Linked DNA regions of Homo sapiens: region 2 is linked to region 1. The links come from fine-mapping of genetic effects on gene expression. A gene starts in region 1. The other region holds a variant in brackets. All regions are shown on one strand. Distances are between the middles of the regions. Region 1 holds the start of NLRP3 (NLR family pyrin domain containing 3). Region 2 holds the start of LOC124904575 (a long non-coding RNA gene).

The links. PIP is the estimated chance that this variant, and not a neighbour inherited with it, causes the effect.
Region 2: its variant is fine-mapped to the expression of NLRP3 in whole blood (TOPMed, PIP above 0.99).

What each region holds. Positions count from the first base shown.
Region 1 is chr1:247,410,121-247,421,826 of GRCh38, reverse strand. It overlaps NLRP3 (NLR family pyrin domain containing 3), which reads right to left and starts at 5,654. Exons shown (of 10, transcript NM_001243133.2): 1 at 5,634-5,654; 2 at 2,750-3,774. The coding sequence starts at 3,026. RefSeq lists enhancers at 11,251-11,310, 11,421-11,470.
Region 2 is chr1:247,442,566-247,454,271 of GRCh38, reverse strand. It overlaps NLRP3 (NLR family pyrin domain containing 3), which reads right to left. Exons shown (of 10, transcript NM_001243133.2): 8 at 10,130-10,300; 9 at 9,451-9,621; 10 at 5,455-5,867. The coding sequence ends at 5,768. It overlaps OR2B11 (olfactory receptor family 2 subfamily B member 11), which reads left to right. Exons shown (of 2, transcript NM_001004492.2): 2 at 1-5,090. The coding sequence starts at 2,290. The coding sequence ends at 3,243. It overlaps LOC124904575 (a long non-coding RNA gene), which reads left to right and starts at 6,045. Exons shown (of 2, transcript XR_007067005.1): 1 at 6,045-6,188. The variant C/G (reference allele first, on the strand shown) is at 5,538.

The DNA.
Region 1 (11,706 bases):
ACCCCACCCCAGGAAACAAACAAACAAACTTCTAACCCTAGTTATAACTTTTCTGCCTCAAAATCCAGATATGGAAGCAAAGACGGTGTAGTGGTTAAGAGCCAGGCTTTGATCAGAGACATGCCCTGCTTTTTACCCCAGCTCTGGTTATGGCTAGAAATAAACCATGGGCCAGTTAGGATCTCTTCCAGGCTCACCTCATTCACTTGCAGGAGGGATAATACCAGAAGCTGTTTCATGGGTTTCTTGAATGTGCCATAAAATCCATAAAAACTGCTTAGCAAAGTACTTCTACAGTTGTGATTATGACACTTTCATTTGGGTATGTGAGTATATAAGTACTGACACAATGATAATTGCTTTATTTACTTAGAGATGAGGTCTCCCTATGTTGCTCAGGCTGGTTTTGAGCTCCTGGGCTCAAGCGATCCTCCTGCCTTAGCCTCCTGAGTAGCTGGGACTACAGGTGAGAGCCATTGCAGCAACTGGTTTCTGACCTCCCCCGGCTGCACACTGCTGTCTGTTTCCCCAGTGTCATTACACCCACACTGCTGCCCTGCCTTAACATGTGTCTCCCTATCCACTGACTCATTTGTACTCCTCCTTCCCATCACCACCAGCTCTACATCATCATCCTGCAATACCCTGCCCTTCTCTGAGCCCTACCTTTGCCTAGAACACAAGACAAAAGAAAGAACCTTATCCCCAATGTGTACATGGGGATTAAGAGAATTTCTTTTACATTCCAATTCCCAAAGTGGTGGTGAAAGGAAAGGCTTCTGCCCCAAACTCCACGGTTCTTCAAGGAGAGAGGCTGCCCTCTGGGCCATAGGAAGCAGAGGCCCAAGCCTGCTGACCACACAGCAGATACTGGACAAAACATGTGGTCTGAGAAGCTGGATGGAGAATTGGAGGCAGGTCTAGGCACTGCTGAGATTCAGATAAAGAGGGACTAATCATGGCAGGTGCCCAGGGGGTAGGTACAGTCTGCATCAGCTTTTTAAAGGAGTTAGAGAAAGCAAACAGTTTGCCTCCACCTTCTCATAGCACTACCGTGAGAGGGGAAAAGAGAAAAAACCAAGACAATACAAGAAAAAAAAATTTTTTTTTGAAACAGGGTCTTGCTCTTTAGCCCAGGCTGGAGTGCCGTGGTGCAATCTCAGCTCACTGCAACCTCCACTCCCCATGTTCAAGCAATTCTCCTACCTCAGCCTCCTGAGTAGCTGGGATTACAGGTGCCCACCACCACACCCGGCTAATTTTTTTTGTATTTTTAGTAGAGATGGGGTTTTGCCATGTTGGCCAGGCTGGTGTTGAACTCCTGACCTCAGGTGATCCACCCACCTCAGCCTCACAAAGTGCTGGAATTACAGGCATGAGCCACCATGCCCGGCCATGATTTAAAAAAAAAAAAATCATACTAACTTCTGTGCATCAAAGGACACAGTTAACCAAATGAAAAGACAACCCACAGAATAGGAGAAAATATTTGTAAATCATATATCTGATATGGGGTTAATATCTAGAATACATAAAGAACTCCTACAAGGCAACAACAAAAGCCAAACCTGGTCTGAAAATGAGAAAAGAACTTGAACAGAACTTTCTCTGAAGAAGCTCTATAAATGGCCAACAAGCAGTGAAAATGTGCTCAGCATCACTTATCATTAGGGAAACGGAAATCAAAACTACAGTGAGATACCACCTCACACTCATTAGAATGGCTACTATAAAAAAGAAAAAATAAATAAAAATAACGTGTTCTTAGGATATGGAGAAATTGGAACCCTTGTGTGCTGTTGGTGGGAAATGGTGCAGATGGTATCTAAAACAGTAGAGCAGTTCTTCAAAATATTTAACAGAATTACCGTATGATTCAGAAATTTCACTTCTGAGTATATACCCCAGAGAATTCAAAGCAGGGTCTTGAAGAGATATTTGTGCACCAACACTCATAACAGCATTAACAATAACAAAAAGGTAGAAGTAATCCAGGTGTTCATCAACAGATAACTAAACAAAATTTGGTATATGGTACCATGGAGTATTTATACAGTCTTTTTTAAAGGAAGGGAATTCCGACACATGCTACAACATAGTTGAACCCGGAGGACATTATGCTGAGTGAAATAAACTACTCATAAAGGAAAAAATGCTGTATGTTTCCACTTATATGAGGTACCCAGAGTAGTAAGATTCACAGAGATGGCAAATAGAATGGTGGTTACCAGGGCTGGGAGAATGAGGCAATGAGGAGTTATCATTCAATGGGTGAGGAGTTTCAGTTTTGCAAGATGAAAACAGTTCTGGAGACTGGTTGCACAATGTGAGTGTACCTAACACTACTGAACTGTACATTTAAAAATTATTACGGCCGGGCGCGGTGGCTCACACCTGTAATTCCAGCACTTTGCGAGGCCGAGGCGGGTGGATCACCTGAGGTCGGGAGTTTGAGACCAACCTGACCAACATGGAGAAACCCCATCTCTACTAAAAATACAAAATTAGCCGGGCGTGGAGGTGCAATGCCTGTAATCCCAGCTACTTGGGAGGCTGAGGCAGGAAAATCGCTTGAACCCGGGAGGTGGAGGTTGCAGTGAGCCAAGATCTCACCATTGCACTCCAGCCTGGGCAACAAGAGCAACTCCGTCTCAAAAAAAAATATATATATATATATATATAAAGATGGAAAATTGTACACTATGTGCACTTGGCCACAATTTTTTTTAAAAGTCTTCCTTCCACTCACCCCACTTCGGCTCATCTCTTTTTGCTTTCTCATAAAGGTCTCTCCTGTTGATCGCAGCGAAGATCCACACGGCCATGGCCCACGCCTTCTCCTCCCCATTGAAGTCGATCATTAGCGTGGCTAGATCCACATGGTCTGCCTTCTCTGTCTGACCCCTCGGGAGGGGGATGCAGCCCTTCTGGGGAGGATAGTCCTCTAAGTGCATCTTAAATTTCTTCAAGTCCACATCCTCCAGGTCCTCCAGGTACCTGGCCAGCTTGCAGCGGGTGCTTGCCATCTTCATCTGCAGCTGTTTTCAGGGTCCTTAGGCTTCGGTCCACACTAAGATACCAGGCAGTGAACACGGCACACGGATGAGTCTTTTTTAAAGTCTCCACTTTGAGAGATATAAATTATCAAAAACTCAGCAAACAGAAAGAAAAAAATGTCACATGACTGTAACAAGTCAAAATCTTTAATTTTGAAAAGTTAGCCAAGGCCGGGCACAGTGGCTCACGCCTGTAATCCCAGCACTTTGAGAGGCCAAGGCAGGCAGATCACCTGAGCTGAGGAATTCAAGACCAGCCTGGCCAACATGGCAAAACTGTGTCTCTACTAAAAGTACAAAAATGAGCCGGGTGTGGTGGCGGGCGCCTGTAATCCCAGCTACTCAGGAAGTTGAGGTAGGAGAATTGATTGAACCCGGGAAGTGGAGGCTGCAGTGAGCCAAGATCACGCCACTGCACTCCAGCCTAGGCGACACAGCAAGACTCCATCTCAAAAAAAAAAAAGTTAGCCAAATGCTTACCAGAAAGTTCTCCTGTTGGCTCGATCCAGGAGTGTGTCCTGAGCCATGGAAGAAAGGTTTCCCTATGGAGGGAAAAATATGCAAACAAATCCATAAACAGGATTGTATTACAGTTTACGGTGAACAACCACTTCACGATGCCATCTTGACCCATCAGCAAGAAAATTTTTGTCCCGTTGATTACGGGGCTATGACATTGGACAAACTCTTCACTATTCCTCAACTTCAGTTTCCTCATCTACAAAATGAGAAAGCAGAAGAGAATGTTTTCAGTTCCTCCAAACTGAAGGCTCTGGCTCTTTGCTTCTGTTTTTGTGAGGGAAGAGGGATGAGAGACAATAGAAGGAGAAGGCCAGGAGGTGAGTAAGTGTGTTGATAACAGAACAGGACGTGGCTAGGGAGAGAGGAGAGAGAACATAAAAGCTTGCAGAGGAGGGGACAGTCTTTGACTGCACTTCTATCAACCAGTGGATTGAAGTGAGATGAAGCTGGGAGTGCATAATGGAGAATAATAAAAACATACATCCCTGTAATCCCAGCACTTTGGGAGGCCGAGGTGGGCGGATCACCTGAGGTCAGGAGTTGGAGACCAGGCTCACCAAACAACAGGGAGAAATCCCGTCTCTACTAAAAATACAAAAATTAACCGGGCATGGTACCAGGCACCTGTAATCCCAGCTACTCGGGAGGCTGAGGCAGGAGAATCGCTTGAACCCAGGAGGCGGAGGTTGCGATGAGCCAAGATCACACCACTGCACTCCAGCCTGGGCAATAAGAGCAAAACTCCATCTCAAAAAATAAAATAGAATAAAATAAAATAAATAAAAACATACATCCTTTAATGTCTCCTTGCAAAATTCGCAATTGTTATCATTATAATTCACATTAATTTAGAGCTTTCCACAGGCTAGGCACTCACTGATGTTTTTCCCCATCTAACCTGCACAGAGCTCTATGAGGTGCACCTATTCCTAGCCCCATTTTATAGATGCATAAACTGAGTCTTAGGGGGACTAGGAAGCCTGCCGAGGGGTTTAGAACCAGGAAGGAACAGAGCCAGGATTTTGACCAGAGATATGAGACCATGTCTTCCATCACTTGTTTCAGTCAGACAAAGACAAAGACAACAAAATAGATGACTAAAAGACACACTTCCCCAGCATTTATCACAGGTGTATCACTGCAGCATTCACCAACATAGTCTTCCCAACTAGACTGTGAGTTCCACAAAAACTAGCAATCACCTGCTGTATCTTTAGATCTTCCATATCTCCTAGAGTCCGGATGGATGAACAAGTTGGCTTTGTTTGGAATTGTTCCCTCCTTGATCCCTTGATTATACTCTATTTGGCAAAGCACCTCAACCTAAAGCCATAAATAACACTCAAGGGAGGCAGAGAGCCTGGAAAACGGTGGAGCTCTCCAAATTGGAATTTCTGTGACTGCAGTTCAATGTCAAGATGCCTCAGACTCACTCATCTCTCCCGTCCCATCTCCATTCCTGCCTATCTACTCCTCGCCTCCTGAGCCCTGCAAACCCAGCCCTGTGCATCCTGAGGTGACTGCTCTCCAGACAGCCCTATTAGCTCCGCATACCCTCCCAGCTCCTGCCCATCCTGAGGTGACTGCTCTCCAGACAGCCCTATTAGCTCCGCATACCCTCCCAGCTCCTGCCCCATCAGTCCTTCCATCTGCATCAGGATTCTGCCTTTCTTCTGTGCTCCTTCCACCCTAACACCAGCACAAAAATCTGCTGCCCTTTGGTCTTTAAGGAGGTTTGTTTCCTTCTGTATATCCCATCCATCTTCTCCCCTGGGAGGGATACTGGGCAAATCTGCTGAAGTCGTGGGTGTAAACTATGGTTGCTGCCGCTGTCCTCCCCGCTTCCCCCCGCCACATACACACACACGAACTTGCACACGTAGAGCCCAAATAATGATAAAAGAACATTCCAGAAATGTTGTTGAAGCACAACCTTGGAGACGCCAGAAGAAATTCCTAGTGCATTAACCAGGACAAGTTCTGCCCTCTGAACACAATCTCCCCCACTGCTCTCCCGGTCCTGTCGCCCACACTGCCCCGCGGAGCTGGACTTACCCAGATGCCAGCCTCAGGAACAGCTAGAGAGGAAATGCAATGAATTTATAGCAGTCGCAGCCCCAGAAGGGGCAGGAAGGATGTGGTCTCCACTTACATCAGAGCAGAGGCAGAGAGACTAATGGTTAATCACATAGCTGGATTTTCCAAATGGGATCAACAGTGTTGTCAAAACCGTGTCTCGGTTCCATACTGGGGTTCACCTTGCTCTCCTCTGAGGCACCCCACAGAAGCAGGGTGGGAGGCCAGTATGAGATGGGGCTGGGGGTCAAATCGGCAGTGCTAAATGGATGTTGCCTCTGACACTGCCCGCTGCAACGGCTCCACTGAGAGTGAGGGAAGTGAAACTAAGGACATGCCATGCGAGTGAGTAAAGAATCCAGAGCATGACCTGACCCAGCCTTCAAACTCCAGAGTCCATGCCCTGTCCTCTCACAGCAAGATGGCTGGAAGGCAGTACAGGTTCTCTCCGACATGTTCTACTTTTAAAGCACAAATTTTACTCCCTGACTCATTGACTCACCTGTTCCACTAACACTCACGGAATGGCTGGTATGTGGCAGGCATGCACACAAAGCCTCAGCTTGAGTAGCTTGAGGAGAGACACACACAGACCTACTCTGCAGCTCATGAGACGGCCGCAGGACCACAGACCGGCAAAGGCACAAGTTCAACAGAGCTTGGTGGGTGAGAGGCACTCGCTCAGCCTCTGGGTGAGTGAAAAGGACGAGCACCCAGTTCAGTGGAGGGATGTCAGCAAATGACTGGGTCTGTCTGTGCCTCATACCTGTAAAAGGGTGACAATAATTGCCTGCTACTTCTTTAGATCTTCCAAATCTCCTAGACTCAGGATGGATGAACAAGTGGTTTTGCTTGGAATTGCCCCCTCCTTGATCCCTTCATTATACTGCATTTGACCAAGCACTACATCAACCCAAATAACGGTACCTATCCTAGAAGGCTGTCAGAAAACACTGAGTGAATGGCTAAACGTGAGGCCTTTAAAACAGAGCCTGGCACAGAGAAGCTAGAATAAGCAGTTGGTTCCGATGACTACCACCTTTCTACAGAACTGCAGAGAGAATGCTCTACAACATGAGAGAGGCATCTAGTCCTGCTTAGGGGCATGACAGCAGACCTGAGTCTCCATGAACCAGGTGAAAGGTGTCATTCGGGGCTGGAGCTGAGGCAGGAGCAGCAAAAACTTCAGGTGCTGAAGCTAGAGAGAAAGCAGACCAAATATGCTCCAAAAGAAAGGAGCTCAGCCTGGGTGCAGTGGCTCATGCCTGTAATCCCAGCACTTTGAGAGGCCAAGGCAGGCAGATCACAAGGTCAGGAGTTTGAGACCAGCCTGGCCAACATGACGAAACCCCATCTCTACTAAAAATATAAAAAAAAATAGCTGGGTGTGGTGGCGGGCACCTGTAATCCCAGCTACTCAGGAAGCTGAGGCAAGAGAATCACTTGAACCTGGGAGGTGGAGGCTGCAGTGAGCTGAGATTGTGCCACTGCACTCCAGCCTGGGTGACAAGAGCAAGACTCCATTTCAAAAAAAAAAAAAGGAGCTCATTGGCTGAACCTGGGATCTTTTTGTTTTTGTTTGTTTAGTCAAGTTAATTTAGGTATAATTCAGCCGGGCGCAGTGGCTCACGCCTGTAATCCCAGCTCTCAGGGAGGCAAGAGGCGGGAGGATAGCTTGAGCCCAGGAGTTCGAGACCTGCCTGGGCAATATAGTGAGACCCCATTCTCCAGAAAAAGGAAAAAAAAAAGACAAATTTAGGTATAATTCATATGCAGTAAAAATCCATGCCTTTATAAAAACAGACCCATAGACCAGTGGAACAGAAATAAACTCAAGTATATGCAGTCAACTAATTCTTTGACAAGGTCACCAAGAAGACACAATGGAGAAAGGACAATCTCTTCAATAAAGATGTTGGCTATAGAAGTGTGAAAAAAAAATCAAGAAAAATATAAGATTTTGAAAAATTAAGCTTTTGGTGAAACTGGATTTCCACACGCAAAAGAATAAAACTTGGCACACACAAAAACCAACTCAAAATGGATTAAAGATCTAAACATAAGATCTAAAACTGTAAAACTCCTAGAAGAAAATAGAGAAGAAGCCAGGCATGGTGGCTCATGCCTGTAATCCCAGCACTCTGGGAGGCTGAGGCAGGAGGATCACCTGAGGCCAGAAGTTCACAGTCAGCCTGGGCAACATAGTGAGACTTTGTGTCTACAAAATTAAAAAAAAAAAAATTAGCCAGGCATGGTGCTGTGCACCTGTAGCCCAGCTACTCAGGAGGCCGAGGCAAGAAGATCACTTGAGCCCAGGAATTTGAGGTTACAGTGAGCTATAATGACACTACTGCATTCCAGCCTGGGTAACAGAATGAGACCCAATCTCTAAACAGATAAAAAACTAAATATAAAAAATAGAAAACAGAGGAGAAAACTTCTTGATATTAGCCTTGGCATGGATATTTTTAATGTCTCAACAAAAGCAAAGGAACAAAAGTAAAGATAAATAAGTGGGAATACATCAAAGTAAAAAGCTCCTGTATAGCAAAAGAAACAATCAACAGAGTGAAAAGGTAGCCAACAAATTGGAAGAAAATAGTTTTAAGCCATATATCAGATAAGTAGTTAATATGCAAAATATGTAAGGAATTCACACAACTCAAAGCATAAAACAAATAATCTGATTTTTAAAATGAAGAAAGGAACTGAATAGACATTTCTCTAAAAAAGAAACAAAAATGGTCAACATGTATACAAAAAAGTGCTCAACATCACTAATCATCAGGGAAATGCAAACCAAACCCACAATGAGGTACCACCTCAAACCTGTTAGGATGGCTATTAGCAAAATGACAAGAGACAAACATTGGCTAGGGCGTGAAGAACAGGGAACCCTTGCACATTGCTGCTGGGAATGCAGATTGGTGCAGCCATTGCAGAAAACAATATGGAGGTTCCTAAAGAAATTAAAAATAGAACTACCGTATGACCCAGCAATCCTTCTTCTGAGTGTGTATCCAAAGGAAATAAAATCACCACCTCACAAAGACATCTGTGCACTCATGTTCATAGCAGCATTATTCACCATGGTCCAGATAGGCAAACAACCCAAGTGTCTATTGACAGATGAATAAATAAAGAGTTTGGGGCATATATACACAATACAATCTTAGTTAGTATTAAAAATTGAGACTCTGCTATTTGCCACAACATAGATGAACCCGGTGGACTTTACACAAAGCATAATAAGCCAGGCACAGAAAGACAAACACTACATGATCTCACTCATATGTGGAACCTTAAAAAAAAAAAAAAAAAAAGTTAGGCCAGGAGTGGTGCCTCACACCTGTAATCCCAGCACTTTGGGAGGCTGAGGTGAGTGGATCACTTGAGCCCAAGAGCTTGAGACCAGCCTGGGCAAGATAGTGAGGCTTCACCTCTACCAAAAAAATGAAAAAAAGAAAAGAAAGGAGGGAGGGAGGGAAGGAAGCCAGGTGCAGTGGTGTGCACATGTCACCCCAGCTACTTGAGAGGCTGGGAGGCTGAGGTGGGAGGATTGCTTGAGTCTGGGAGGTCGAGGCTGCAGTGAGCCGAGATCACACCACTGCACTCCAGCCTGAGTGACAGACCGAGATCCTGTCTCAAAAAAAAATAGTTGAATATATAGAAACAGAGAGTTACCGGGGTAGAGGAAATAAAATGACGGTCAAAGGGTACGAAATTTCGGTTATGTAGGATAAATAAGCCGAGAGATCTAACAAACAGTGTGGGAACGATAGTTAAAAATATTATAAACCTGAAATTTGCTAAGAGAGATTTTAGATGTTTTTACCACCCACAAGAAAGATTATTATGTGAGATGGTGGCTATGTTAACTCATGTTAATTTGCTTGACTGCAGCAATCATTTCACTATGTATATCAAACTGCCATGTTATACACCTGAAATATGTACAATAAAATAAATATTCGCACCTTTTTCATGCACAGGCCTGTGAGTGCTCACAAGCATATAGCTACCCACCACCACAGCCCACACAGAGCACCTGCATCAGCTGCACATGCTCCCTGTGCAGCCTCTGTCCCCACCCACTGTGCTGCCACATAGTCAGCCTCTGTCCCCACCCGCAGCCCCACTTCTTCCACCTGCTAAAGCATTACCTTTTCCAGAGCATCACATAAACAGTGTGCAGCCTTTGGTGAGCGAGTCCGCTCACTTCATATGATGCCTGTGAGATTCAGATCAGTAGCTTATTCCTTTTTACTGCAGTTAAGTATTTCATGGGTTGGATAGGCCACAATTTGGTTTTCTATTCCCTAGGCAAAGGACAGTTGGGCTGTTTCCGTTTTTGGCAATCGTCAATTATGCCACTGTCACTCATGCAGCTGGCGAACTGGCTGCAATTGTGTAAGGACATCAGTCACTTGGGGCAGTGGGAAGTTCACGAGAAGCAGATGAGGTTTCCAGCCTTCGCTGCTTCACTCTCCGCTGAATGCTGCGACCACTCCTGTGGTCCGACTCCTTGCCTGCGACCCTCACCTCAGCTTTCCTGTGAGGCTCAAATAAAACAAGACCTGATCTATAATACATTATTGTAGAGAGGAAAAAATAAATAAAATAATACCTGACAGCAAAATGTAAACTGTACAGTAGTATTCAAATTGTAGGTCAGGCCAGTTTCAGTGGCTCACACCTGTAATCCCAACGCTTTGGGAGGTTTGAGGCAGGAGGATCACTTGAAGCCAGGAGGCCAAGAGCAGCCTGGGCAACATAGTGAGACCCCATCTCCACAAAAAATTAAAAAATAGACGGATGTGGTGGTGCATGCCTGTAGTACCAGCTACTCAGGACGCTGAGGTGGGAGGATCGCTTGAGCCCAGGAAATTGAGGCTGCAGTGAGCTAGGACTGTGCCACTGCACTCCAGCCTGGGTGACAGAGTGAGACCCTATATTAAAAAAATGCAGATTATGAATCTTGAAAAGATACTCTAATCATACATAAAAACTTGTCAATGAAAGACCACCATACTCTGTGTGTTATTATGCATTCTGAAAAAATTTTGTTTCAGATTTGGGAATATCAAAATCAACACAAATAAATAAGTCAACTCACAAAAGTAAAACGCGGTGATTTTCCATACATCATTCATGCAAAAAAAAATAATAATAATTTACTCTTGTACATTTAAGAAAAATAATTGCTTCCATTAAATACCCAAAGCTCACTTAAGTGGACTGGAACTCACAGCACTGAATTCCAAACTAAAATTGCATGAATGATTTCAAGTTGAAATCACCTGTGGTCCCCAGCTACTGGGGAGGCTGAGGTGGGAGGATCTTCTGAACCCAGGAAGTCAAGGCTTGCAGTGAACTGAGATTGTGTCACTGCACTTCAGCCTGGGTGACAGAGCCAAATCCTGTCTCCAAATAAATAAATAAATAAAAATACGCAAATAAATAAAAATTTAAAAAGAACTTAATCCCCCAATACAATAGTATTCAGGGGTGTGGTGTTTGTGGGGTGATTGAGTTTGTGGGGTGATGAATGGGATTCACACACTTGTAAAAGGGCTCCGGGTTCAAGGGGGTGCTCTCTCTTGCCTATCTGCCATGGGCCATGTGAGGACATGGCAACAAGGCACCATCTTGGAAGCAGAGAGCACTTCTCACCGGGCACCAAGGCCAGCGCCTTGATCCTGGACCTCACGGCCTCCAGAGCTCTAAGAAATAAATTTCTGCTCCTTAGAAATTACCCAGTCTCAGGTGTTTTGTTAGTACAAACGGACTAAGACACAAGCCCAAGTGGGATGATCTCAGGGGTGCTCAGCAAAGGCAGAGATCAGCCCAGAAGCCAGACATCCTCCCCTACTAGAGAGAACAGAAGAGATCGGAGGTGGGGAGTGCCAAAGTATCTGAGGTTACCAAGAAACAGACTGCATTTCAAACTGAAAGTGACTGGCTGATATTAAAAATGGCAATTTCACTTTCTCTCACCAGAAAAAATGTGACTAGCAGGAAGGGAAAAGGTATGAACAAAGACAAATTGGGT
Region 2 (11,706 bases), 32 kb before region 1:
CCAGGGCATGAGGGGCAGGGCTGGGCAGTGTCCAGCTTTGCCATTGAGAAACCGTGTGTGTGTGCGTGTGTGTGTGTGTGTGTGTGTGTGCGTGTGCACGTGCATGCATGTGTGTGCACGTGTGTACGTAAGTGTGCACATGTACAGTGGACTATAATTACAAGAAAACCACTCCTCTCTAATCCCTGCCCCTTTCTATCCTGTGACCTTCCTCTCCCTCATCTCCCCTTCCCAGGAACTTCTTTTGTCTCAGTCGTTTACGCGACTGCCCTTGCTGCTCCCCATGTCACCAGCTGCTCTTTTTTTAAAGCAAAGTTCTGGAGAGAATAGTAGTGAAGAGCAGGAGTTTGGCTTTCAGTCCTGGCTTTACCATTTGCTGCCGTGTAACTAAGGTAGACCAGCTGTCCTCCCGAGTCGCTCAGTCAATTAGGGGTGAAAACATGGACCTTGCTGAGATATTAAGGCAACATCAAGTTATTATTACAGTACCTGGCTCACAGTGAGTGGTAAATAACTTGTCTTTATTATAAATTGCCGCATACATTTACCCCTCTATCTTTCTTGCTTCCTTCATTCTCTCATTTCTTTCTTCACTATCCCTACAACTTCTCCCTTTTCTCCCAGTTTAGGCTCTGAAAAGAAACTCTGGAATCAGAAATCTCAGAAAGAGAAATGTCATAATTCCTTTACTTCTTAATAATTAGACTTAAAAATGTGCTAGCTTGACTTTGCTCGGCCACAGCTCACTGTTTTGACAGGCATCTTGAGCTCGTTAGAGATAAGATCACATTCTGTGAAGTTTATTTCATAAGTATTGTTGATAGAATCTGGGAGGAGATACGATAATTGAATGTTTCACAAGAATATTGGCAACTTTCTGACAAAACGTGTGTGGTTTTGAAACTAGAGAAGCAGGAGGGAAAAACTGAACTTATTCCTCCATTGAAACCCTGGAGTTTGAGTTGTTTTCCAGTAACAGTAGAGTTCTTCAGAACATCAACTGGGGCAGCAGGGAACACCTGTTGCAACATGTAAGCTGAGCAGATCTCCGTTAGTTTTACAGTCTATGCATAAGGTACCAAATCAAGAATAAAAATCCTTCATAAATTATCTGCTTACAGGATTTATTATGAATAATGATTAATTAATTATTGTTTATTAATAATATTTTTCAATCCTATCATGGAGCATAACATCCCCATCAGGAACTGGAAGGTGTGCAATGCTTGAGCGATTGTAGGAGGTGAGAAGCCAATGGTGCAGTCGAAAGGACCCACGAATCAGCAGGTGGCAACCCAGTTGCTTCCTAACAGCAATGGTTTCAGAAATCAAATTGGCTGTTTTCTATCACTGAGAGGTGACAGCTGCTCGGCAAAGAAATTGTGCAGGAAATTGGAATGTCACTCAAGCCATCAGATAAAACCTAGCCCTAGAGGGCAGTCTGATCTTTCCGTAGACAATTCCAGGGGCTACCTTTCTCACGCCAATCAAGAGCTTTCTCCCTGTGCTCAAAATTCCATGGTCTGGGGTCTCATTAACTACCATGACCTATTCAGGGGCTGAAGTAACGTATACCTTGGCTCTTCCACTCCAGAGACTCACAGGACCTAGAATTGTGCTGCTTTTACTGCCAGTGTGAGTGACAGGGCTGCCTGTGCGTGTGTGGTCATGACAGCGGAGATCAGCATGAATCCGGGAGCTGGATGCAAGCGTGAGCCAGTGACGGGGGGTGGTCCTATCAATACAGCCCCCAGCTGCTCACAAAGCCCTTCTGCTTGCTTTATGTCACCGCCTGCCTCCCTCCTACCACTACCTCCCAAAATGGGAAAGCCTAAGAAGGTGGACAATTCCTTGTCGATGTGGATGTAGAGAGAAATCAAACACTCTGACGGTGATGGGAGCTGCAGCACGCTTCGCTCTACCTGGAACATAATTGTCATTCGTGAGGTATTCTTCTCACATACTTAATGTCTCTATCGTCCCCAAGTCTTGGCAATTGAAGGAGGTATTTCTCCCCATTTTACAGATGCAGAAGTTCAGGAATATTAAATGGTTTAGTTGCGGCCACTGAGTAGGAAGGAGAGCAAAGACACAGAGGCTGCTACTGGGGCTCCTGGTTCTGACCCTTCCGCATCCCAGCGTCTCCACAGAGGTAAGGAGAATCAAACAGGCTATCACCTGGGAAAGGAAGAGTGGATGCAAGAGGGAGGAAAGTGATCAATTCCTCTTCTCAGGTATTATTCATTCCAATTTTCTCAATTTGCCACAAGTGCCAGAAAATGCCGCAACATGAAAAGTGACAACCATAGCTTCTTAGGGGACTCCCCTAAAGCCTTCATCCTTCTGGGTGTGTCTGACAGGCCGTGGCTGGAACTCCCTCTCTTTGTGGTCCTCCTGCTGTCCTATGTGCTGGCCATGTTGGGGAACGTCGCCATCATCCTGGCATCCCGGGTGGATCCTCAACTCCACAGCCCCATGTACATCTTCCTCAGTCACCTGTCCTTCCTGGACCTCTGCTACACCACCACGACAGTCCCTCAGATGCTGGTCAACATGGGCAGTTCCCAGAAGACCATCAGCTATGGAGGCTGCACTGTGCAATATGCAGTCTTCCACTGGCTGGGATGCACGGAGTGCATCGTCCTGGCCGCCATGGCCCTGGACCGCTACGTGGCCATCTGCAAGCCCCTGCACTATGCCGTTCTCATGCACCGTGCTCTCTGTCAGCAGCTCGTGGCTCTGGCCTGGCTCAGTGGCTTCGGCAACTCCTTCGTGCAGGTGGTCCTGACGGTGCAATTGCCATTCTGCGGGCGGCAGGTGCTGAACAACTTTTTCTGTGAGGTGCCGGCCGTGATCAAGCTGTCGTGTGCTGACACCGCTGTGAATGACACCATACTGGCTGTGCTGGTGGCCTTCTTCGTGTTGGTGCCCCTGGCTCTCATCCTTCTCTCCTATGGCTTTATTGCCCGGGCAGTGCTCAGGATCCAGTCCTCCAAGGGACGACACAAGGCCTTTGGGACGTGTTCCTCCCACCTGATGATCGTCTCCCTCTTCTACCTACCTGCGATTTACATGTATCTGCAGCCCCCTTCCAGCTACTCCCAAGAGCAGGGCAAATTTATTTCTCTCTTCTATTCCATAATCACCCCCACTCTCAATCCCTTCACCTACACCCTGAGAAATAAAGATATGAAGGGGGCTCTGAGGAGACTTCTGGCCAGGATCTGGAGGCTCTGTGGATGATGAGGACATGAGATGTAGCATCTCCATCAATTAAAGAACACAGCACAAGTCTATTGTGCACTCAGAGCATCTTTCACTTAAGGAGTTAATACCCAGAGAGCTCAAAAACCCTGTCTTCAAACATCTCACTTCCTGTTATAATGCCCCAAATCCCATAGCGACAAAGTTCATTTTAAACGTATAATTCTAAGAGGCCATATATTTTTAAGCATTGTTTAAATAGACTTCAATAAGTATGTGTGGAATTATTTCACTTCCAATTTCCTGATTCTTTTCTCTTTTCCTCTTCCTATATTTCTTTTATTCTCTCCCCATTTGTCTCTTTTCTATTACTCCTAAGTATACACAAGATGAAGCTGAAATACAATCTTATTTTACTTACAATGAATAAGTGTTTTTCTCCATATACTTAAATCTCCACAAATTTTACACGACTTTTTCAGACAATTCCAGGAATGAAGTAGATTGCTATCTTCTTCCTGTGATTTTGATTTTTTTTTCTCTGTAGTTCACATTTTCTTCTATAGAAAGTTTTTCCATGAAATGTAAACTAGTACAAACACTAGTACAACCACGATGGAAAACATTGTGGATCCTTAAAGAACAAAAAGTAGATCTACCATTTGATCCAGCAATCCCACTACGGGGCATCTACCCAGAGGAAAATAAGTCATTATACGAAAAAGATACTTGCTCATGCGTGTTTATAGCAGCACAATTTGCAATTGGAAAAATATGGAACCATCTGGGCGCAGTGGCTCATGCCTGTAATCCCAGCACTTTGGGAGGCCGAGGCGGGTGAATCACAAGGTCAGGAGTTCAAGACCAGCCTGGCCAAGATGGTGAAACCCCATCTCTACTAAAAATACAAAAATTAGCTGGGCATGGTGGCACACGCCTGTAATCCCAGCTACTCAGGAGGCTGAGGCAGAGAATTGCTTGAACCCGGGAGGCGGAGGTTGCAGTGAGCCGAGATCGCGCCTCTGCACTCCAGACTGGGCGACAGAGCAAGACTCCATCTCAAAAAAAAAAGAAAAAGAAAATGTGAGATATATACCATGGAAAAATACTATTCAGCCATAAAAAGGAATGAAATAATGGCATTCTCAGCAACCTGGCCAGTTTTAATGTCCTAATGCCCAAAGGTTCTCTTTCTCTCTTTCAAGCTCAGCTATGTGTTTCTGATTACATTATTTATATAGGTTATCAAAGTGTTTGTAGCAGGAAGGCAGTCGGTAATAGTTCACCAAGATGCAGAAACCCAGTCTCCAGTTGGTGCTGCTCAGAAGTGCTAACAAGACAGAGTTTGCAACAGAATGTAAATCTCATACTGTTTCCCTTATAAAAATAGTCTTCAGGGTTTTTTTTAAATGTCAGCTCATCTAAAAGGTATGTTTAATAATGTGATTGTTTTACATTCTTATACAAGCTCCTTATATCGACAGTTCATAGACTACACTTTGAGTAGCAAAGTGTGGCTACTTTGATGGCTAATTGTACAGAGGAAATAGTATTTCCATCCTGAGCAATTCCATGCGGTTTAAGAGTTGTCCATGTGTAGAGAAGCAATTAGTAAATATTTCCTTATAACTTAATGCTCTGTGAAGTATAATAGATGAACTGTTCCTCGGATGGGATAAATCCAAAATAAGCTGTTATCAACTGAAAGCAAGATGCATCTTCTACATAATACTTCTAGTTAGGAGCGCAGGCTCTGATACTCTCAAACCTTTCCCTCCACGATTTTCAATCTCCTATCCTATCAAAGATGAAATTCCACTCATTACAGTTAGAGTGAGGTAACGTTTTAAAAATTATCTACAATGGAATCATTTGCCAAAGTGACTTTTAAAATGCACCAAACAATTTAATTTATCTTTAGTGGTTTAGAGAAATAATTTGAAAAATTTCTAGGTACTCTTTTTTAAAATTAAGAAAAGGAATCAATTTAATTAAATACCAAAAAGTTTTACATATTCCTGAATTTTCAACCAGCTACAAAAAGCATGGATTTTTCTTATTAGAAAACAAAACTGTTACAAAAAATTTAAATAAATAAATAGCTGCCATAAAATTTCAACATAATATATAGTCAACTAGTTCTGTGTTATGGTCAGTTAATAGAAAGATAGCGGGAATGATGATATGAGCAAAAGTAAACAGAACAAAGAAGAAAAAAGATAGGAAAAAGAAAGTTAGACAGAGAAGAGAAAAATAAAGAAAGTGCTTTATTGAATGAGCTAATTACATGAGGTCACCAAGAGGAACATCCTCTAACTGAGGCGCTGTGATGA[C/G]AACAACACCCGATGCTGTCATTGTCCTGGTGTCTTCCTCACCCTGGCGTAAAGGAGATGCCCAAGCTCTGCACAGGAAGGCATCGTCGGCAAGCTCTCTTCTCCGACACTCCACCGGAAGGATCACAGAGCTGTGGTCTTGGCCTGGATGGATCGCAGCTCTCTCCACCTGAGGGCCCCCAGCTGGAGGGACCGGAGAACACTGGCGTCTGGCAGCCCCGTTTCCACTCCTACCAAGAAGGCTCAAAGACGACGGTCAGCTCAGGCTTTTCTTCTTGAAGTGTTTCTAACGCACTTTTTGTCTCATAATTGAAATACATTTCAGACAACCTGTAAAAGCAAATAGAAAGCCTGGGTTGCACTCTTCAGATAACTCTGTCAGAGTCGTTAACCTTAAAAGTCTCATCTCTTCATTTCCCTAAACTCCACACACTTCTAAAATGTAAAAAAAAAAAAAAAAAAAAAAGAGGGACCACAACTCCCAGAGTGCTCCGCGTCCTCGCCGCCGTCGCCGCCGCCGAGACCAAGATGGCCGCGAGACTCCGCACCTTCTTCAAGAATGCCTGGGCCAAGGAGCCGGTGCTCGTCGTGTCCTTCGTCACTGGGAGCCTCAGACCCCCAGGACCCCAGCCTGGAGTGGCTGAAGAAACTGTGAGCACCTCCAATGACAGAGGAGGCCCCTCCCACGGCTCCCAATAAAAATGTGGGGAAAAAAAAAAAAAAGCTCTAAGTGCCCAATGTGGTTCCTGTTATATTTTTAACTATCTAGTTGGGAAAATGTTAAGCATACATAAAAGTATAGAAAATAGTATAATGAACCCCCTGTGTCCATTACCCAAGTTCGACAATTAAACAGGTCATGTCAACTTGTTTCTTCTATTGCCCACCCACTCCTCCCACCCATGGATTATTTTAAATACTGCATTTAATGCATCTATCAATAATTCACTTTGTGACACTAAAATATAATTACAATGTCACTATCACACCAAAATCGTTTAACAATAATTTCTTAGTATCACTGTATGTCCAGTCAGCATTTACGCTTCCTCAACTGTCTTGTAAATTTTTTTACCTTATGTTCATTTAGTCACTAACCTGATCAATTCTACACATTGCATTTGCCCAGGATGCCTCTCACATCTTCGATGTAAGTTCTTCCTCCTCTTTAATAAAGTTTCCCTTGCAACTTAACTAATAAATCCACCCATTTGTCCTGCACCATTTATAACCATCTCAATTTGGTGGTGTTATATACTGAATGTTTGTCTTCCTTAACAATTCCCATGATGAAGCCCGAACCCCTAATGTACGGTACTTAAAGGTGAGGCCCTTGGGAAGTAGTTAGAGTTAGATGAAGTTGTGAGGGTGGGGCCCTCAGTATGGGGTGAGTGCCCTTACAGGAGAGATATCAGAGAGTTTGTTCTTTCTCCCCTGTCTTCTCTCCCTTGCCTCCCCTCCCTCCATGCAATCACATAACAAGAAGGTAGCCATCTGCAAATCAGGAAGAGGACTCTCGCCAGCAACCAAATTCATCAGAGACTTGATTTTGGACTTTCTAGCCTCCAGTATTGTGAGATAATAAATCTGTGTTTGAGTCACACAGTCTAAAGCAGCTTGTTATCGCAGCCTGAGAAAACGGGTTGATTGCATTCATGGATTCTTCAATCTATTTTGAGCCTGTCCCTCAGCCTGGGTCCAGAATGTCCCTCAGGGCTAGGTCAGTGATGCTACATGTAGCAGTGTCCCCAGCTTTGACCTGACCAATCCTTTGTTTGTTCCCCCATCTCTCTTAGCTCTGGGAATATTGGCTTGTCCTGCAGCAAATGTGCTCCATTATGTTGGCACAAGGATGCAAGGCTGATTCAAACTTGTATTTATTCAAACCTGCATTCCAACAAGTTCTCAGCCTTGAGATCATTAATATGGACAGAAGTCCCTGGACTAATGGAATTTATATTTTGGGAGCAGAGATAGATAATAAATAAACAAGAAAATGACATAGCACATAAGATGTGCTACACTGCAGAGGAGAATGAGAAGAGAAGAAAAAGTGCTTCTATTTTCAGTAGAATAGTCAAAGACAGCCTCGCAGAGAAGACCTTTAAGCAGAGAATTTAGGAAGGTACAGGGAATAATGCAGGTGGATACTGAAGGGGAGAGAGTTCTAGGCCAGAAGAAAAGCAAGTGCAAAAATCCAGAGATGACAGTGTTCTTGCAAAACAGCAAGGAGATCACTGTACTGGGGCAGAATAAGCAAGGGTTGGGAGAAGCGGAATCTTCGGAAGCAGGAGAGGCTGGATTATGTGGGGCATGGAAGCCACCATGAGTTTGTTGCTCTGATTATGAAAGTGATAAGAAGACGATGTTGACAAGAGTGATATGATGCGAGTTACGTTTTAGCTGAATCCCTTGTCTGCTAAAATCAGAATAACAGATGCAGGGTGACCTGTCAGAATGCCACCATGACAATCCAGACACCAGGTGATGGTGGCTTGAGCCAAGGAAGAAGCCGTGAAGCTGGCCTGAAGTGGTCAGGGAGTGGCCAAGCTGGGAAGGCAGAGCTCACAGGATGTGCTGACACATTGGACATGATTATAAGGAAAAAGAGACAGTGACGACAGAACCAGAAATGTTTTGGCCCGAGCAACTTGGAGGAAGTGACCATCGACTGAAATGGGGAAGAATCAGGTTTCGGGTAGAAGAGAGTAGCAAGGGTGTGGATCTAGATGTGACGTTTGAGAGGTTTATTAAACCTTCAAGAAGAAAGATCAGCCAAGCACGGAGACACAGAATTTATGGACATATAATCTGGAGGCCACAGCACACATATCATGAAGCCAGAAGACCAGATAATTTAAATGAGGGAGAAAGTGTAGGGAAGAAAAATTAGCCCAGCGACTAAGCTCTGAGGATTCAACACATAAGGGTCAGGATGATGAAGAAGAGGCCAGAAAGGAGACTGAGTAGAAGGATCTGATGAAATAGGAGAAAACCCAGGAGAGCATGTTGGCCTTAAAGCCAAGCAGTGAAAACGTCTTCAGGGAAAAGTGCAATCATCACGGCTGACAGAACCGTGGGACTCGCCAGGAAGCTCTTGCTAGAGAGGAGACGACTACCTCAGTAGTATCACAGAGGTGGGCTGGCAATATCCTGACACACTGTCGAATTTCGTGTAATTTCCCATCTTGCTATTCCTGGAGCACTCTTTTCCCATTTAGAAATCCTCAGAAACCGCCAGGCACGGAGGCTCACACCTGTAATCCCAGCACTTGGGGAGGCCGAGGCAGGCAGATCACGAGGTCAGGAGATGGAGACCATCCTGGCTAACACAGTGAAACCCCAACTCTACTAAAAATACAAAAAATTAGCCGGGTGTGGTGGCAGGCGCCTGTGGTCCCAGCTACTTGGGAGGCCGAGGCAGGAGAATGGCGTGAACCCGGGAGGCGGAGCTTGCAGTGAGCCGAGATCATGCCACTGCACTCCAGCCTGGGCGACAGAGCAAGACTCTGTCTCAAGGAAAAAAAAAATAAATCCTCAGAAACAAAACAACAAGATCCCCACTATGTAAAGACCCTTCCAATTTGGATGACCCATAGACGAGTTCTACGAAGTTCGGTTCCTTGTGTAGAACAGAATCCTCCTTGGCCATGATCGCATGAGGGCTTGTGTTTCTTTGGGGAATGTGGGTGAAATCCAGCTTAGCCTTGGTGATTCTAACCATCTCAGTGAAGTGGAATGTGTAGTTTAACCCCATATTCTCTATTTTAAAATATCCACCACAACTGACCCAGGCCCAACCTAATCTTGAGTGGCTGCAAATGAAGCGAGAGCCATCCTGGATTTTGATAACAGTCAACGTTTCCTGAGAACTCAGAGTCCCACCACGGGCATCTCTGCAGAGCACACTCACCCCAGGTTCTGCAGGAGGCAGCTCTGCTGTTTCAGCACTTCACAGAACATCATGACCCCCAGGTCGCCCAGGTCATTGTTGCCCAGGCTCAGCTTTCGCAGGCTCTGGCTGGAGGTCAGAAGTGTGGAAAGATCCCAGCAGCAGTGTGACGTGAGGTTGCAGTTGTCTAATCTGCAAAAAGGGGGTGATTTAAAGAAAATGTCCCCTTAACCATCCCCCTAGCTCCCCAAGATTTTAGCATCTTAGCCTGTCTTGTTTCAGGTGGAAAAAAAAAAAGCACAGGAGCACAGGACTAACTAGCTTCAAGCAGCCTTGTATGCTGGTAATTATTCTTCTCTCTCTTTTTCAAATCCACTGCATTGCACAGATCAAATTAGTAACAGTGGTTTGTTCATTGATTTACCAAATTCTGTGCCTTTCCCTACATTTCCATAAAATGTAAGTGTCATACTGCCCTCCTTGTTTTGTGGTACAGAAAACTGTGATGGTAAGGACTCAAGTTCCTACATCTATATCATCTGGAAGGACTCCTCCCAGTCCCATGATCCTGTAACAAGGCAAACACTAAGAAGACACCTCACTTCTAAGATACAGATTATCTTGTGGCCACTCTGCCTAAACGTCCCTCCACCCTTGGCCACCATGTGTTCTCATTGCTGTAATAAACCAAAGGACTTACTCCAACACCTGAAGCTTGCAGTCGGGGTGCAAGAGTCCCTCACAGAGTAGTTTGATCCCCTTGTCTCCGAGAGTGTTGCCTCGCAGGTAAAGGTGCGTGAGATTCTGATTAGTGCTGAGTACCGAGGACAAAGCTGAACAACAGACTGACGTAAGGCCAGAATTCACCAACCTGTAGAAGGACAGGGAGAAGAGTCCTCAGTACCCAGCTGTTCCCCAACATTGTGCAGCTGCTTTGACTCAGTGCCTCGTCCTCTCTCAGCAGCTGCAGCCTTCAGCTCAGAGAGCAGGAGCCAGCATCTCAGATATGATCTGGGGAGAGCAAGACCTGCTGTCTCTGGCTGTCACAGGAGACACAAATGATGTCTCAGCAGATGCTTTGCTGTATGAGTCCGACAGAAAGAGCCAAGGCAAACTGAGCCAGTTACCCCATACTCCTCCTCCTCCTCACACAGCTTTCCTCCGGCCAGGAGTGCTCCTCAGCACCACTTCTTCCAGAAACACATCCCAGTGGTTATCCTCAACTAATAATCCCCGTAACACTGCAGACACCCACACTGCAGGGGCCTTTTTTTTTTTTTTTAAGAGAGACAGGAAAAAAAAATCCTCCTCATGGGAAGTCGGTGCTGATTTAAACATCAAAGACAACAGGTGAACGTCCATTGTGACCTTCTAAGCTGTAGCTAGGGCTGTGACAGGAACACGGCGGGGCCCTTAGCAATTGCCACCTCCCGCCTTCCTGCGCCCCCAAATGCCCCTTTCACATCTTTCTCGCTGCAGCCCTCAACCACGTTGGAGAGGTGGGAGGATCGCTTGAGTCCAGGAAGTCGAGGCTGCAGTGAGCCATGATTGCGCTGCCACACTCTAGCCTGGGTGACAGAGTGAGACCCTGCCTAAATAAATAAATAAATAAGGCCAGGTGCAGTGGCTTATGCCTGTAATCCCAGCACTTTGGGAGGTCCAGCACTTTGGGAGGGTGGATCACGAGGTCAGGAGTTCAAAACCAGCCTGGCCAACATGGTGAAAGCCCATCTCTACTAAAAATATAAAAATTAGTTAGGGTGGTGGTGGGCACCTGTAATCCCAGCTACTTGGGAGGCTGAGGCAGGAGAATTGCTTGAACCTGGGAGGCAGAGGTTGCAGTGAGCCGAGATTGCCACTGCACTTCAACCTGGGCAACAAAGTGAGACTCTGTCTCAAAAATAAATAAATAAATAGAAAAAGCCAGGCTCTTGCTCAGTCACCCAGGCCAAGTGCACAGCTCACTGCAGTCTTAAACTCCTGGGCTCAGACAATCCACCCACCTTGGCCTCCCAAAGTGCTGGGATTACAGGCATGAGCCACTGTGCCTGACCCAGAGACCAGTCTTATTTGATTATTATATCAACCTGGCAAGGAAGGAGTGCAGCTAAAACTATTACATACATTTTACATATTAGAAATCTAAGGCTTATAAAAATTACATGTTTCTCTCAAGGCCACAGAGCAGGTGTGTGGTGGGGAGGGATCCAGACCTGGACTTTCCACCTTTTAGTCTCATCTTCTCCCCACTGCCCTTTCTGTCCACCTCTCTCTTCC